Linked DNA regions of Homo sapiens. The protein of the gene in region 2 purifies or fractionates together with the protein of the main gene of each other region. This does not show direct contact. Each region holds a gene or a part of one and is shown on either strand. Other genes may lie near its edges.

What was found. The genes of interacting proteins can lie anywhere in the genome.
Region 1: the proteins of HSD17B3 (region 2) and HERC3 purify together in Homo sapiens (affinity purification with mass spectrometry; 2 studies listed by BioGRID and IntAct, with this or other methods). This does not show direct contact.

The regions. Positions count from the first base shown.
Region 1 is NC_000004.12:88,651,127-88,658,813, forward strand, and holds part of HERC3 (probable E3 ubiquitin-protein ligase HERC3), read left to right. Parts: intron 1-885; coding exon 886-962; intron 963-1,742; coding exon 1,743-1,964; intron 1,965-2,915; coding exon 2,916-3,007; intron 3,008-4,047; coding exon 4,048-4,178; intron 4,179-4,748; coding exon 4,749-4,909; coding exon of another isoform or gene 4,910-4,947; exon of another isoform or gene 4,948-6,308; intron 6,309-7,288; coding exon 7,289-7,365; intron 7,366-7,687. UniProt on the Homo sapiens protein: E3 ubiquitin-protein ligase which accepts ubiquitin from an E2 ubiquitin-conjugating enzyme in the form of a thioester and then directly transfers the ubiquitin to targeted substrates.
Region 2 is NC_000009.12:96,299,052-96,306,770, reverse strand, and holds the start of HSD17B3 (17-beta-hydroxysteroid dehydrogenase type 3), read left to right. Parts: upstream 1-4,594; 5' UTR 4,595-4,666; coding exon 4,667-4,820; intron 4,821-7,719. UniProt on the Homo sapiens protein: Catalyzes the conversion of 17-oxosteroids to 17beta-hydroxysteroids. Favors the reduction of androstenedione to testosterone. Testosterone is the key androgen driving male development and function. Uses NADPH while the two other EDH17B enzymes use NADH.

The DNA.
Region 1 (7,687 bases), on a different chromosome or scaffold from region 2:
CTAGGGAAAATGTTTATAACATTAATGGCAAAAATATTTCATTTGTTGATGACCAAAACACAATTAAGGTTTTTAACGGCATTTCATTTTTAAAAATGAAGTAATCTGTTCTACAGTAATAGCTTAATATTCATTATTCATGTTCAAATTATGGATGACTTCCAAGACTTTGATTTGTATATAGTTTTCTATTATAAGTTAATTGAAATAAATTCACTAATTTATACCTTTGTATTGTGGAAAGTAACATAGCTTTGATGTCAAACAAGCCTTGGATTCCAATACTGGCTCTTTTACTTGTAAGGTGAATGACCTTGGGCAGGTTAACTTTTCTAAGCCTCAGTTTCCTAACTTAAAAATTACTTACTATGTACCTTACAGGGTTATGGGGAGGATAGAAGGAGACAAGTAGGTAAAATACAGTATGTGCTTGCACTGTATGGACTCCCTCTTCCCCACCTCAAGGGTACAATTTCTCTATTATCTGTCTTTGTTCTTCTGACCTGCTTCTTTTCTACAACTGATTGTGACAAGAGTAATGGTGATGGGGAATTGTTGAAGCAATTCTCTGCCTCAGCCTCCCGAGTAGCTGGGATTACAGGCATGTGCCACAACGCCCGGCTGATTTTTTTTGTATTTTTAGTAGAGATGGGGTTTCATCATATTGGCCAGGCTGGTCTCGAACTCCTGACCTCAGGTGATAAGCCCACCTTGGCCTCCCAAAGTGCTGAGATTACAGGCGTGAACCACTGTGCCTGGCCTTAAAAAGACTTTTAGGCAAGATGGTGTTATTTATTACTGACATTTTATTTAATTGGGAATATTTCTGATAATTGTGTTTGTGTGTGAATATCTATCTGAAAAAGAAAGCCTTTTCTGTTTTAGGTTAATACAAAAGCTGAACCAGCAAACAATATTACAAGTTTCCTGTGGCAACTGGCATTGCTTGGCTCTTGCGGCTGGTAAAGTAACATTAAACATATGCTAATGCTATGTTAATTTTGAAAACATTTCTCTTTGTCTTTTTGTGTGATATTATCTAACTGAAAACTTTGAATTAACTGGTTAGGGTCTATGCATTGCTGTTGGACAGTGACAATTCTCATATGGGCTTTGCATAGCTCATCCTTTTCTCAGGGTGTGGGTGATGAAGTAGGTGGTCATCATTGCTGCTCCAACTTTCACAGGGGAAGATAAGCAGGGGGCAGGACCATACCTAGGTGTTCTGAGCATGGAGGAGATTGATTTTTCTTAGCGACAGCCAACTCTCAAGCTACATTCCACTATCAAGCTCCCAAATGAATGAAAAAGAAGGAGTTGGAGAAACCTAAATAAATCTGCACTTCTGTGTCCTGCTTGATTATCTGCAGAGCAGACCAAGTGGTCATTGCTGGACCTCCCGAAGTCTTGGGTCTCATAGTCTTAGTGTGGTCAGAACTAGTGTGATCTTGCTTAAGCCTGGTAATTGGCCTGTCCGAAATTGAATTTACTTATACATTTAATATTTTCTGTGTATAAATTTTAATAGCCTTTGAAGGGCAGTAAGACTCAGCTTACCTCTCTGTTATATCACTTGGGAGTTTTGGTTTTGGCAGTCTGATAGCATGAAGTATCTCTGTTCCTTTGCTCTTGGGTGGGTTTGGTGTTGGGGGGCAACTGGCAAATGACCCTAATAACTAGATTATTTTTGTGTGTGGAGCTTGTATCATTTTATGGTAATACCAGTTATCCTGTTATTTCAGATGGCCAGTTCTTCACCTGGGGAAAGAACAGCCATGGGCAGCTTGGCTTAGGGAAGGAGTTCCCCTCCCAAGCCAGCCCACAGAGGGTGAGGTCCCTGGAGGGGATCCCACTGGCTCAGGTGGCTGCCGGAGGGGCTCACAGCTTTGCCCTGTCTCTCTCAGGAGCTGTTTTTGGCTGGGGGATGAATAATGCCGGGCAGCTAGGGCTCAGTGATGAAAAAGGTAGGTAAACCCTTCATATGTATGTATTTAGTTTAAAAGCACATTCATTTAACACATGCTTCTTGAGGATCTACTATGTGCTAGCCCCATGTGAGATACTAAGGGAGAAGCAGTGAACACAATAGAGAACATCCTCGTCTTAGTGGAGACTGTATTCTAGTGAGTAGAGGTGCAACAAAACCAGTAAATACACAGGATTTGAGAGTGCAGCTTCCTGCTTTACATAAGGTGGTGGGGAAGGGCCCCTCTGATAAGAAAATGTTTGAGCAGAACCTGTAGGAAATCAGGTGGGAGATGGGACATGTAAATGTCTGGGTGAAAAATGTTCCTGTCAGAGAGAACTGGGTGTGCAAAGGTGCTCATGTGGGAAGAGATGTAGTTGGAGAGAAGGGGAAGAGTAGCACAGCTGCAGGTCAGAGAAGTCGTGTAGACCCAGTTATGCAGGGCCCTGAGGGGCAGGGTGAGGATATAACTGGTTTTCTCAGTGAGAGGGGAAGACCCTGAGGGTTTGGAGGAGAAGCGTGATCCACTTTGGCTTTGGCTGTAGTGGGTCAAGGGGGAAGCTGGAAGACCAGCTTGGAGGTTGTGGGAGTAAAGTCAGATTTTAAACATATTTTGAAGATGAGGCCAGTTGGTTTTGTTCACTGTTGGATGTGTGGTTTGAAATAAAGGAACAGCTGGAAGGGCAAAATGACTGTTTCTGAAATGGGGAAAACCGTGTGTAGTAAAGTGAGCTGGAGAGTGGGCAGGGTTGGAGAGTGTAGGGAAACCATGAGGTAGGTTTTAGGTAAATTAAAACTGAGAAGTCTGTTGGATATCCAAGTACAGATGCAGGCAGGAAACTGAACATGCGTCAGGAATCCAGGAATCCAAAATTCATGCCAAGATAGTTGTGTATATTTCATCTCAAAGGCAAATGGTAGTGATATTCTGATATTTAATTTATTCTAGATCGAGAATCTCCATGCCATGTAAAACTCTTACGCACGCAAAAAGTTGTCTATATTAGTTGTGGAGAAGAACACACAGCAGTTCTCACAAAGGTAAGGAGCTCAGAGTATTTTACTTTGGTGCTGGGGATATGATGGGTGATTAGAATTGCTTGATTATGTTAGTGTAGTGATGGTGTGTGATTACAGTATTGTGGCTTGAACTTGAATGCTCTCTTTTATGTGGGTTTGTTGTTTTCCAAAGGAATAGAAAAAGACTACTTTTTTGTATGTCTCTGTTATCCTCTTTGGTAATCTTGTAGATTTTTCATATATATATATATATATATATATATATATATATATATACACACACACACATAATGTAGATTATATATATATACACACATATAATGTAGATTATATAAAAATGTAGATTATATATATAAATATAATGTATATATTTATATATATATAAATTCCTTGGTTCTTTATGGAACAAAGACAGCACTTTGTTATTTTTATTTGTTATTTTATGTATATATAATATATATAAAATGATGTCCTATGTTCCTTTAAAACAAGTCATTTAAATATGTAAAAAAGAAACAGCAATTTAATTAATGTTTTAAAATAATCATGTTTCTTTTGCTTCTAAATACATTCTAGAGAGAATGAAAATGTATTTTTATATTGAACAAATATTATTCTACGTTCACTTTGATAAAATGCCTTAACATTTATTTAAATACAGCTGTTAAAAAAACAGCTTACTTACCAAGGAATTTGTAGAGCACCTAATTTCTTACATGTGAATGATCATGTAAAATCATCTCATTTAGCCTAGCTCCTAGTTTCTCCTTTTTTAAAATTTTGCTTCCTAACACATCATTGTACTTTCAAACGATTTTAAAAATTTACAGAAGGCACACATTCCTTTGAGCATTGCTATCTTTGTTCCATAAAGATGCAGTCTGAAATTCCCTTTTTATTATTTTTCTATTTAATGAACATCCTTACAAAGTGATTTTGGCCAAGTGTCAAGTGAATGTAGTGCTCTTGTGCACATTGTTGTGATAGGCATTTTGTATACAGGGTTTAGAGGTATACCCTTAAAGATACAGTGAAGTCCTATGGTGTTTGTTCCTTGTTAGAGTGGAGGTGTGTTTACCTTTGGCGCTGGTTCCTGTGGGCAACTTGGACACGACTCCATGAATGATGAGGTTAACCCTAGAAGAGTTCTAGAGCTGATGGGTAGTGAAGTAACTCAAATTGCTTGTGGCAGGTGAGTGTTCCTCAAAGCTTGCTTGTATTCACTAGGACCCAGAAATTGGTCTTATCTTTGTAGTGATGAAGAATGTGATTATACCTAGTCACCGTCATTTTAAGAGATCTTAACTGCATGCACGCCTATGGTGAAATGTGGAGAAAGACCTTGATAGAGTGTGGCAAGGAAGGGTTTTAGATAAGCAGAGCAACACGGAGACATTAGGCTTCTTTTGGGATAAAGAGTAGCAGGATGTGGGGAAGGGATAAAGAAAGGAAAAGTGAGAGAGTCCCAAAGAACTTCTTGGAAATTTTTGCCTGAGTCTACCCTGCTTCTCTCTGTTCATCTTAGAGGCCACATGCAGTAGATCATTCAGCTCTTTCCTGACTTGCCACCCTCCTCATGATCTAGAGTGTTAGAGGATAGTATTATGGAGAGCAGCCGCTGCAAGAAGAGTCACGTGTTAACATGGGAAAGGCTCTATAGGAGCACCCTGTGCTGTGCACATGTGGAAGTTAAAAGTCAGAGTCAGAGTGTACATCCACATTAGTAGAAACTATGCTGATGAGTTAAATTATTTTTTCACAGACAACATACCCTAGCCTTCGTGCCTTCTTCTGGACTCATCTATGCATTTGGTTGTGGAGCAAGAGGTCAATTAGGAACTGGGCACACTTGTAATGTTAAGTGCCCATCTCCTGTCAAGGGTTACTGGGCTGCCCACAGTGGCCAGCTTTCAGCCCGAGCTGGTAAGAATGATTGTCTCTGGAATTTAAAGGTATTTTAAGTGATGAAAACAGTTGTTTACAGAATATGTATCTATTACTTACTTTGAGGTCTTTTGGAGGGAATGAAGATAAGGTATTTTTTAACATCAATTAATAATTTCTGTACTTACTATGCATGAAGCTGTAGAGTTGAGATCCTAGAGAATAAATAAAGCAGGAAATACTGTTGTGTTAGGCCGTTCTTGCATTGCTGTAAAGAGCACCTGAAACAGGGTGATTTATGAAGAAAAGAGTTTTAATTGGCTCACAGTTCTGCAGGCTCTACAGGGAGCATGATGCAGCCATCTGCTTGGCTTCTGGGGAGGCCTCAGGAATCTTACAGTCATGGCAGAAGGCAAAGAAGGAGCAGACACTTCACATGGCAGAAGCAGGAGCAAGAGGAAGAGTGGAGAGGAGGTGCCATACTTTTTACACCACCAGATCTCATGTGAACTCAGAGCAAGAGCTCACTTATCACCAAGGGGATGGCCCAAGCCATTCATGAGGGATCCGCCCTCATGATCTAAACACATACCACCATGCCTCACCTCCAACATTGGGATTACTGCAATTCAACATGAGTTTTGACCAGAACATACATTCAAACTATACCAGTTATTTTGTTTCCACAGACCTTGGTGGTGGTGTATACATTTTATTGTTGTTGCTAATAATGACAGTTCGCATGTATTGAATGCTTAATGACGTTTCATTACTATGCAAAGCACTCAAAATAATCTAAGAACTAGTTAGTGGTTATTATCCCCATGTTAGAGATAAGGGAACAAAGTCTTAAGGAGGTCAAGTAATTTGCCCAAGATCACATAGATTCTGGAGGCAGGATTTAAACCCAGGTCATTCTAAATCATGTGTACTATGTTACCTCTACTTTGCTGTTGGCATTTTGGTATATAACATGATGTGATTTCTTTTTAAGCCATTTTTTTTCTTCCCTTAAAAAATAGTTAAATAGCAGTCTTGGTTTCATTGGAAATCAAAGTCAGGCAGTCATTAATATTGAATGACTGCTTCACCTTGAAATAATAAATCTGAGGCTGAAATGGAGCTAGAGAATCATTAAAAGGAAGTGTAACTTATTAATTTTGATTTTGAAGTCGATAAAGTGACACACTTATGGCTTGATCAGGAATTTGTTTGAAACAGTAACCATCATAAGTTTTAGTACTGGATTATAAGAAACTCAAGGACACAGACAAACTCTTTTCCTTTTTGTAAACCTAGCATATAGCACAGGACCTGGCATGAACTTGTCACTCAGTAGACATTTTTGGAATGGATATATGAGCATCTGAAATGTAGTGCAACTTAAAATATAAATAAACAAGATTTTGTCTGGGTGATGTTCCCAGAAGCAAAAGAATGGCTTTGTGTCCTCTTCTCTGTAATTTGTAAATTCTTTTCTCCAAGACATTGTACTCATACGTGGAATACATTTATTTAGAAAGTTTACCAACTCAGGTGTTTTTTGGTTATTTCAAAACCACAAATTTTTGAAGTTGAATTATAACCTGACTTCCATGGTCCTAAATTTGTGCTTGGATGTTTGCCAAAATGATTTTATAACATAAGCAGGTAAATGTCAGTTATGTAAATGACATGGTTTTAGGAACCCTCTTGGTAATGTGGGAGCACAGAGGAAGGCATGGAGGAGTATTGTGGTTAGAGGAAGTTTGAGCTGTGCCTCGAAGGATGATTTGGAGTTAGCCAGGTGTAGAGGACTGTGAGGGAGTTGGTGTGAGCACCACCAAGGTGCAGTTCCAGAAGCACATTCAGGTTGTGCTCTCGGTGGGCACATTCATGGAGAATCCCATGTGCCAGGGGCAGCAGAGGGGGGAGGCACCGAGATGTGAAATAGTGTGGTGTATTAGAAATAAAGGCAACGTGGTAGTAGGAGAATGTCACCGTGGACACAGTGTGATGGGAGGTAAAGCAGGGAGCAGGAAACGGAGGTCCTTCCGTGGCAAGATTCGTCCTGACGGGGCCTGGGCCCACCACACTCACATGCTGAATTGTTACCATAAAGAATAGTGCCCATTTCAGATTTCAGGTCAGTGGCATGACAGAGTTAGAATGAAAAAGAGAAACTAGGTCAGGATTCACTGGCAGTTGGGGAGGGGCAGAAGAAGAGTTAGAGTGGAGGATACCATTTTATATATTTATTTTTAATTGAAGTAGAAACAGTCCTAGGCAGTGAGCCAGGGGAGAAGATTTCTTACTTCTGTGACACAATTAAAATGGATAGGTACCCACTCTGAAGTGTATTCTGCGACAGTAGAAAAGGGGATCAAGGAGAAACTTCAATTAATGAAAAATATGCTTTCGGAATTTTTTTTTTGACAGATCGCTTTAAATATCATATCGTTAAGCAGATCTTCTCTGGAGGAGACCAGACTTTTGTACTTTGCTCCAAATACGAGGTAAAATTTTTCTTGTGACTCTTATTTCCAGGAAGGAATAATAGTGAACCAACATTTCTTTTAACAAGTAATTACAACATAAAGAGCAATGTTACTCTTTGTTTCTACCAATCCTATGTTATTTTTAAAATAAGCAAACTAAATCTGGAAGAAGTTGTCTCCATTTGGCTCCCTTGAAGTGCCAACAATTCTCCTGGAATTATGGAGTTCTAATTTATAATTTGAAATTATTTATTTATATTTGTACTTGTTCCAGAAACTCTGTAAAGGATGCCTAGGGAGTTGGTGCTTACTTTGGCATTATTTGATTTTCCATTTCTTT
Region 2 (7,719 bases):
CTGAGTGGTTTAAATGGCAGAATTTTGTTCTTACAGTTGTGGAGGCTGAGAAGTCCAAGATCAAGGTGGTGGCCCACTTGGTTCCTGGTGAGGGCTCTCTTGCCGGCTTATAGACAGTGGTCTGCTTGTTTGCTTGCTGTGCCCTCATGTGGTGGAGAGAGAGAGGGAGATCTCTTGTGTCTCTTCTTCTTCTTCTTTTTTTTTTTTTTTTTTTTTTGAGATGGAGTCTCGTTCTGTCGCCCATGCTGGGAGTGCAGTGGTGCGATCTTGGCTCACTGCAACCTCGGCCTCCTGGGTTCAAGCAATTCTCATGCCTCAGCCTCCCGAGTAGCTGGGATTACAAGCGGGTGCCACCATGCCTGGCTTATTTTTGTATTTTTAGTAGAGATGGGGTTTCACCATGTTGGCCAGGCTCCTCTAGAACTCCTGACCTCAGGTGATCCACCCACCCTGGCCTCCCAAAGTGCTGGGATTACAGGTGTGAGCCATCGCACCCAGCCTTGTGTCTCTTCATTTAAGGGCATTAATCTTACCATGAAGGCCCCACCCTCATGATCTCATCACCCCCAAAAGGCTCTATCTCCAAATATCATCACACTGGGGGTTAGGCCTTCAATACATGAATTTTGGCTGGGGCCAGGGGGTAGGTGATACAAGTCATAGCATCTTGCAAATAGAAAAATACACATTTATTTAAAAGCTTTGCTGAATTCACAGTCAGATATTGGTATGTAATTTCTCAATCTATTACATGGGGTTGGATATAGTTTTTGATGCTGAAAAGTAAAAGTGGGGAAATCTTGGTCTGTGACCAAGCACACAAATGAATTGCGGCTTACAGTTCTGGTAACGGAAGTCTAAATTATCCACCATCCAAAGAATAACTGCAGGATAAAATTTGTTTGAAGTTTCCAGATAATTTACATGCAATAAATTGCACAGAGCTTAAAAGTGTACAGTCCAGTGAGTTTTGATTAAGGCATGCCCTTCCGAACACATTGCTTATCAAAATATAGAACATCTTAATCAACCAGAAAAGTTCCCTATGACCCTTCTAGCCAATCCCTTCACCTCTACCAGGCAACAAGTGTTCTGATTTTATTTTACTGAAGATTATGTTTGCCTGTTCTTTAACTTCCTATAAATAACATCCTATGGTATGTACATGTAGAAGGCAGTTTCTATAATGGATCTCAATGATCCCCACCCGCTATGTTCACTCCCTTGTGTGATCTTTTCCCTTTGAATATGGAGTGGATCTAGGAACTTGCTTCTAATGCACAGAATGCAGCTAAAGTGATGGAATGGCCCTTCCGAGATCAGATTACAAGAGTGTGGCTTCTGCCTTCTCTCTCTGTCTGATTCTTCTCACTGGCTAGATCTGATGAAGCAAGCTGCTCTTGGGAGCTGCCCTGTGAGGAGGCCCACACAGCAAGGAACAAAGGAGGAGCAACCGGATCCTGCAACAAACAAGTGACTGGGCTGCTGTTTCCCCAGGTGAGCCTGGAGATGACGGCCACCTGGCTGGACTTTATTGCCACCTGTGAAAGACCTTGAGCTAGAGGATCCAGTTGATCCATGCCTGGATTCCTGACCCACAGAAATCATGAGATAATACATGGCATTGTTTAGGCAACTAAGTTTTGGGTTAATTTGTTATACAGAATAGATAACTAATGCAGTACTTTTCTGTGACTTCTTTTGCTTGACAAAATATGATTTATCCATGTTTTTGTGGGCAGAAGAGATATTCTCAAAGAGCTTATTAAAAGCATTAAACCTATTAAGATAGTCAAAAATTTCAGTATAAGAGAAAGCAGCAATACAGAGAGGTAAATTGAGCACTGAAGCCACATAAGCCCTGCATTTGCTGGACGGGGTGATGGGGAGCTTCAGTGGTGATGGTATGGGACAGAAATGAAGGTCAGGAAGAGTCTAATAGATGAACATTCCATAAGGCCGGGGTCCCAAAAGGTTTCTACATCCTCAGGGTAACCGTGGTCCAGAAGAAACATGCTCCCGGACTACAAGGAAATGCACCTTGGCACTGAGCAGAGGAGGTGGTGGTGGGTGGAGATGGCCAGAGAACCGTCCTATGGGTTTATCAACACAGGCCAGGGTGGGGTGTCATGGCAGACCAAATTCACTTCACCTGCATGGTTTAGAAAACTATGAATTTAGCCATGAATTTAATTTTCCAAATTGGAAGTTCCTCTAGGTATCTGGTAGAAGCAAAACCACCTCCTCTATGGAGGAATACAGCTTCATCAGAAAACCTCACAGAGAAATTTCCAAGCAAAATGGGATGTGCACAGGTGAAAATTATCAAGCACACAAGGAAACAGGGCACCATGAGTGAGACCTACCAGAGAGAGGAGACAGCAACAGAAAGGCTGATGTAGGTACTGGAATTGTTAAAGCCAGATCATAAGACAATTATGCTGAGGTAAAGAAAGTCAAAATTAAAAATATCTGCATGGAGCAGAGAACCATAAGAAGAAAAGCCTCAGTTTTGCAAAAAAGAAAAGGAACTTTTAGAAATGAAGTTAAGGTCATTAAAATAAAAACCACAATGGGCTGACTTAACAATGATCAGACACACCTGAAGAGATAATCAATGACCATGAAGGACAGAGTGAGCAGGTCGAATTTCTGACTAATCAGAGTCCTGAAACCATCTCTAAATACAGAGAAGGGAAAGACCAAAAACCACATAGAAAAACGGGCAGGAGAGAGAAAATTCACAAAGAAAACAGTGAAAATAGCTCTTAGGCTTAAGAAAATCTCTCCAACCTGGCTGATAAGATAATTTAAACTTAAAACAACATTGGATGCTACTTCTTACCTACTGGGTGGCAAAAGTCCCAAAGCTTGACAACATGCTTTACTGCTAAGGCAGTGGGAAAACGAACATGCTCACGTGTTGTTGGCGTGAATGCAAAATGAAGGCAAATCTGACAATATCTAGCATAAAGACGTATGAATCTATGTTCTGGCCAGCAATTCTGCTTCTAGGGTGAGCGCAAGGCTGTTGATTGCAGCACAGAGTGAGCTGAGAGTGAGCACAGGCAGAAATGAGAGAAGGCCAAGGACTGATCCTGTGGCCTCTGCAGGGATGACTTCAGTATCCTGGCTGCCCTTGCTTCAGTTGTCACACCCACCCTCCATCCCACCCCCAGAAGGACATCTTCCCTCAGCATCCAGTGGCCTTTTAAAAGCATAATTCAGAGTATAGAACTCTGTTTCCTAAATCTGTGCAATGGCTTCTGGTTGCTCTGAAAGTCCACACTCACCCGTAGGGCATGGCTCCTCCCTCCTGCTCTGGCCTTTTCCTCCCTTACTCTCTGTGGCCAGTCCCTCTGCTGTGTTGTCCTAGTGTTTTTTTTTTTTTTGAGATGGAGTCTTGCTCTGTCGCCCAGACTGGAGTGCAGTGGCACAATCTCAGCTCACTGCAACTTCCACCTCCCAGGTTCAAGCGATTCTCCTGCCTCAGCCTCCGAAGTAGTTAAGATTACAGGCATGCTCCACCACACCCAGCTAATTATTGTATTTTTAGTAGGTCTCAATCTCCTGACCTTGTGATCCGCCTGCCTCGGCCTCCCAAAGTGCTGGGATTACAGGCGTGAGCCACCATGCCTGTCCTGTCCTAGTTCTTATTCCTCAAATACGTGGATTTTTCTCACTTCAGGCATTGTACTAGCCGTTCCATTAGCCTGGAGGGGGAAACTCATCTTTGCGGAGCTGGCTCCTTTTCATTCAAATTTCAACTAAAAATGCCACCTCTTCATGGAATTCCTTCCTGAACACCCTCTCTGAAGCATTCCCTGAGTAGCTACTCAAACACATCATTCAATAGTGCTTTTTCATAGCACTGATGTTATCTTTTTTTTTTTTTTGAGACAGAATCTCACTCTGTCACCCAGGCTGGAGTGCAATGGCGTGATCTTGGCTCACTGCAACCTCCGCCTCCCAAGTTCAAGTGATTCTCCTGCCTCAGCCTCCCAAGTAGCTGGGATTACAGGTGCCCACCACCAGGCCTGGCTAATTTTTGTATTTTAAGTAGAGATGAGGTTTCACCATGTTGGCCAGGCTGGTCTTGAACTCTTGACTTCATGTGACCCGCCTGCCTTGGCTTCCCAAAATGTTGGGATTATGGGCGTGAGCCACTGCCCCATCTGATGTTATCTTATTTATCTGCTCATCATCTGTCCCTGCTACCAGAATCTAAGCTCCAAACCAGAGAGACCCTCTGTGGTCACTATTAACTTCCTAATGCCTTCAAGAGGGGACTCCACCTGGTAGGCAGTCAATACATAGTGCTAAATGTATGAATAATTGCCTTGGATTCTGCATCCTTTTTAACTTTCCCAAATTCAGGGAGAGAACTGTGGGCTGCCATTTTATATTTGTCCAGGCTTTGTTTTTTTCCCTTCATGTCCACCTTTTACTTTTTCACCAGCTCCTCCACAGTAACAAAAGCCTTATTCAAAGGCCTGTGAGTCAGAGGATTATGTAAAGAAGTTACTTTAATCTAGATGCCCCTGACTTGATGGAACACGTCCAGTGACTCCTGGAAGAAGATCTGGAGGTCTCCAGAGCAGCGTGGTCCCAGGAGGCATACACAGAGAGCCACGGCCAGGGCTGAAACAGTCTGTTGAGTGCAGCCATGGGGGACGTCCTGGAACAGTTCTTCATCCTCACAGGGCTGCTGGTGTGCCTGGCCTGCCTGGCGAAGTGCGTGAGATTCTCCAGATGTGTTTTACTGAACTACTGGAAAGTTTTGCCAAAGTCTTTCTTGCGGTCAATGGGACAGTGGGCAGGTAAGGGAGTGTTCCATCTCATGTTTTTTTGCTGCTGTTGTTCCTGCTTGTTACTATTATTATTATTTTTGAGACAGACACTTGCTCTGTCACCCAGGCTGGAGTGCAATGGCGCGATCTTGGCTCACTGCAACCTCCGCTTCCCGGGTTTAAGCAATTCTCCTGCCTCAGCCTCCCAAGTAGCTGGGATTATAGGCGCCTGTCACCACACCTGGCTAATGGTGTTTTTTTTTTTTTTTTGAGACAGAGTCTCACTCTGTTGCCCGGGCTGGAGTGCAGTAGTGCGATCTCTGCTCACTGCAACCTCTGCCTCCTGGGTTCAAGCAATTCTCCTGCCTCGGCCTCCCAAGTAGCTGGGATTACAGGCACACACTACTACGGCTGGCTAATTTTTTGTATTTTAGTAGAGACAGGGTTCCCCCATGTTGGCCAGGCTGGTCTCGAACTCCTGACCTCATGATTTGCCCACTTTAGCCTCTCAAAGTGCTGAGATTACAGGCGTGAGCCACCGCACCCAGCCAACGTTTTGTATTTTTAGTAGAGACAGGGTTTCACCCTGTTGGCTAGGCTGGTCTCAAACTCTTGACCTTGTGATTCACCCGACTCGGCCTCCCCAACGGCTGGGATGACAGGCGTGAGCCACCGCACCCAGCCCCTGCTTATTATTATTTATGTCTCAAAAGGGATATTGCATTTTTTTCTCTTTGAGAGCAAAGAAGTAATTCCTTTGGGTAATTTTAATTGGGGGGATTAGAAAAGTGTGAGTGAAATTAGAATGGTCTGCAACACAAGCTGTAGGGCATTAGGGGAACACTAGGGCAGAAGGCTACCCAGCCCTTGCTAAGCACTTATCCTCTCAACCCCATTAGATGAGTTTTCTTCTTTTGGGAGTTTCCTGCTAATACAAATAATAAATAATGCAGAAATTTCTGCATCCTCATCTCTAAATTTACAAAAAGCCCAGGGTGCTTTCACTTTACTAAAAGGTGTTTCCAAATTTTGAAATCTAAATAATTTTAACTCATTGTATTAAAAAAAGGATCCAAGTGTTTTTAAGAAATGAAGGTGTTACAAAATCAAGGCAACGCATAACTCTATGGAGCCATGTTTTCAGGATGGTATGGAATGGAATCTGGGTCTGGCTGGTGTCAATTAATGCTGCCTCCCCATGGGATTTATCTACTGGAACGCCCATGCAGAACTTCAGCCCTATGACTGAAGTTAAGGTGAAGAGCATGAGGCCATGGTTTCAGCATCTCCTTGAATATCTGAAATGCTAAAGTCTTTGCAGGGCCTTATATTTCAAATTTGGACACACACACACACACACACACACACACACAAAGAATCCAATGACAAAAATGATTAAGTGACTTTAGAGATATTATCTAGGCAAAATAGGAAAGATTCTAATATGCTTATAGGGCTGCCAGATAAAATACAGGATACCCAGTTAAATTTAAATTTCAGAAAAAAAGGAATACTTTTTTAGTATAACTCACATATGGCATGAGACATGCATTAAACAATTCATAATTTACCTTAATTTCAAATTTAAGTGGGCATTCTGTATCCTTATTTGCTAAACCTGGCAACCTTAAAAACTTAGCAATGGAAATTAAAAAAATTACCGTGTGAGAAATTGTTTGGGATGACAAATGGATTTTTGACTTCTGCGTCTTATATTTGCTGTGTGCGTGTGTGTGTGTGTGTGTGTGTGTGTGTGTGTGTGTGTGTGTGTCCTCTTGGGGTATTATGCTGTCAGGAGTGAACTTGCTTGAACTTGCTCAGCAGCTTGACCTGAGTGTTCTGGATTTAAATACCCCACTCCACACAGATTCAGATGCCCACGTGTGGGTGGACGTAGCACTCTGCACAGCTGCTGTCGTTTGTGTAGGGAAAGCCCTTCTAAAAACCTACATTCTAAAAGAAGTTCAAATGGGGACAGAGACTAAGAGCATTTGGTGACTCAAAGGAAAAACATGATCTTAACCTGTTTTTATGAGTCAAGATGGATAGAGTTACCTCTAGCAGGAGTAAAATATGTTTGGGCAGAGGCAGATATCAGGGAGATAATATATTTCAAGTAGGGGACAAAAAAGAAACGCAAGAACTAGAGGCTAAATTTTTAATTCCTCAGATAGAGTACCCTGAGCTCTGTGCTGGATTTCCTAATTCTTTTCTTAGTGTATATTCATAGACTCAGGGCCCCAAAGTCAGACAGCCTGGGTTCAAATCCTTGTGTCATCATTTTTAGCAGTGTGACCTTAATCAAGTTACGAACTTTTTCCCCTTGGCTTCCTCATTTATAAACTAAGGATAATGATGGTCCCTGCATTTTAGGTTTGTTTTGAACATTAAATGAGATGATGCATCTAAAACACTAGAAGCAGTACATGGCAAGAAGTGAGTGTGTGACCGTTATCCGTCGTTATTATTGATGGTATCATCTTGCCTGTAGTGTAGGCCCTGTATTGGGTGAATTGAAGATTCCCCACAGGGAGGGGAAGGTAAGGCCCAAGATGCCCTGAGCATAGTTCCTCCACCCAGAGCTGCAGACGGTGTGCATGGAGCCTCTTAGAAGTTCCTAAACGAACAGACACATCATTAGTAATTATTAAAGCCAGTGTGGTCCGTGAGGCTTGTACAGCTTGGCCTGCACTCACTCTCAGGTGAGCTAAATGTACCTTTTGTTCACACTTTTTGAAAGCATGCCCTTTAATTGTTGTTGCAAGGGTAAATTGTAAGTTTTACGATATACCGAATTGTAGTGAATTTTGAAATTGTGACGTTCTCACGAATGAAGCGTATACTAGAGCTCAATCATTAAATATGTCTGTAATGTTGATATGAAAGGACTAGCAGACCTATTTGACTGTTGTATATTAACAGATAGTTC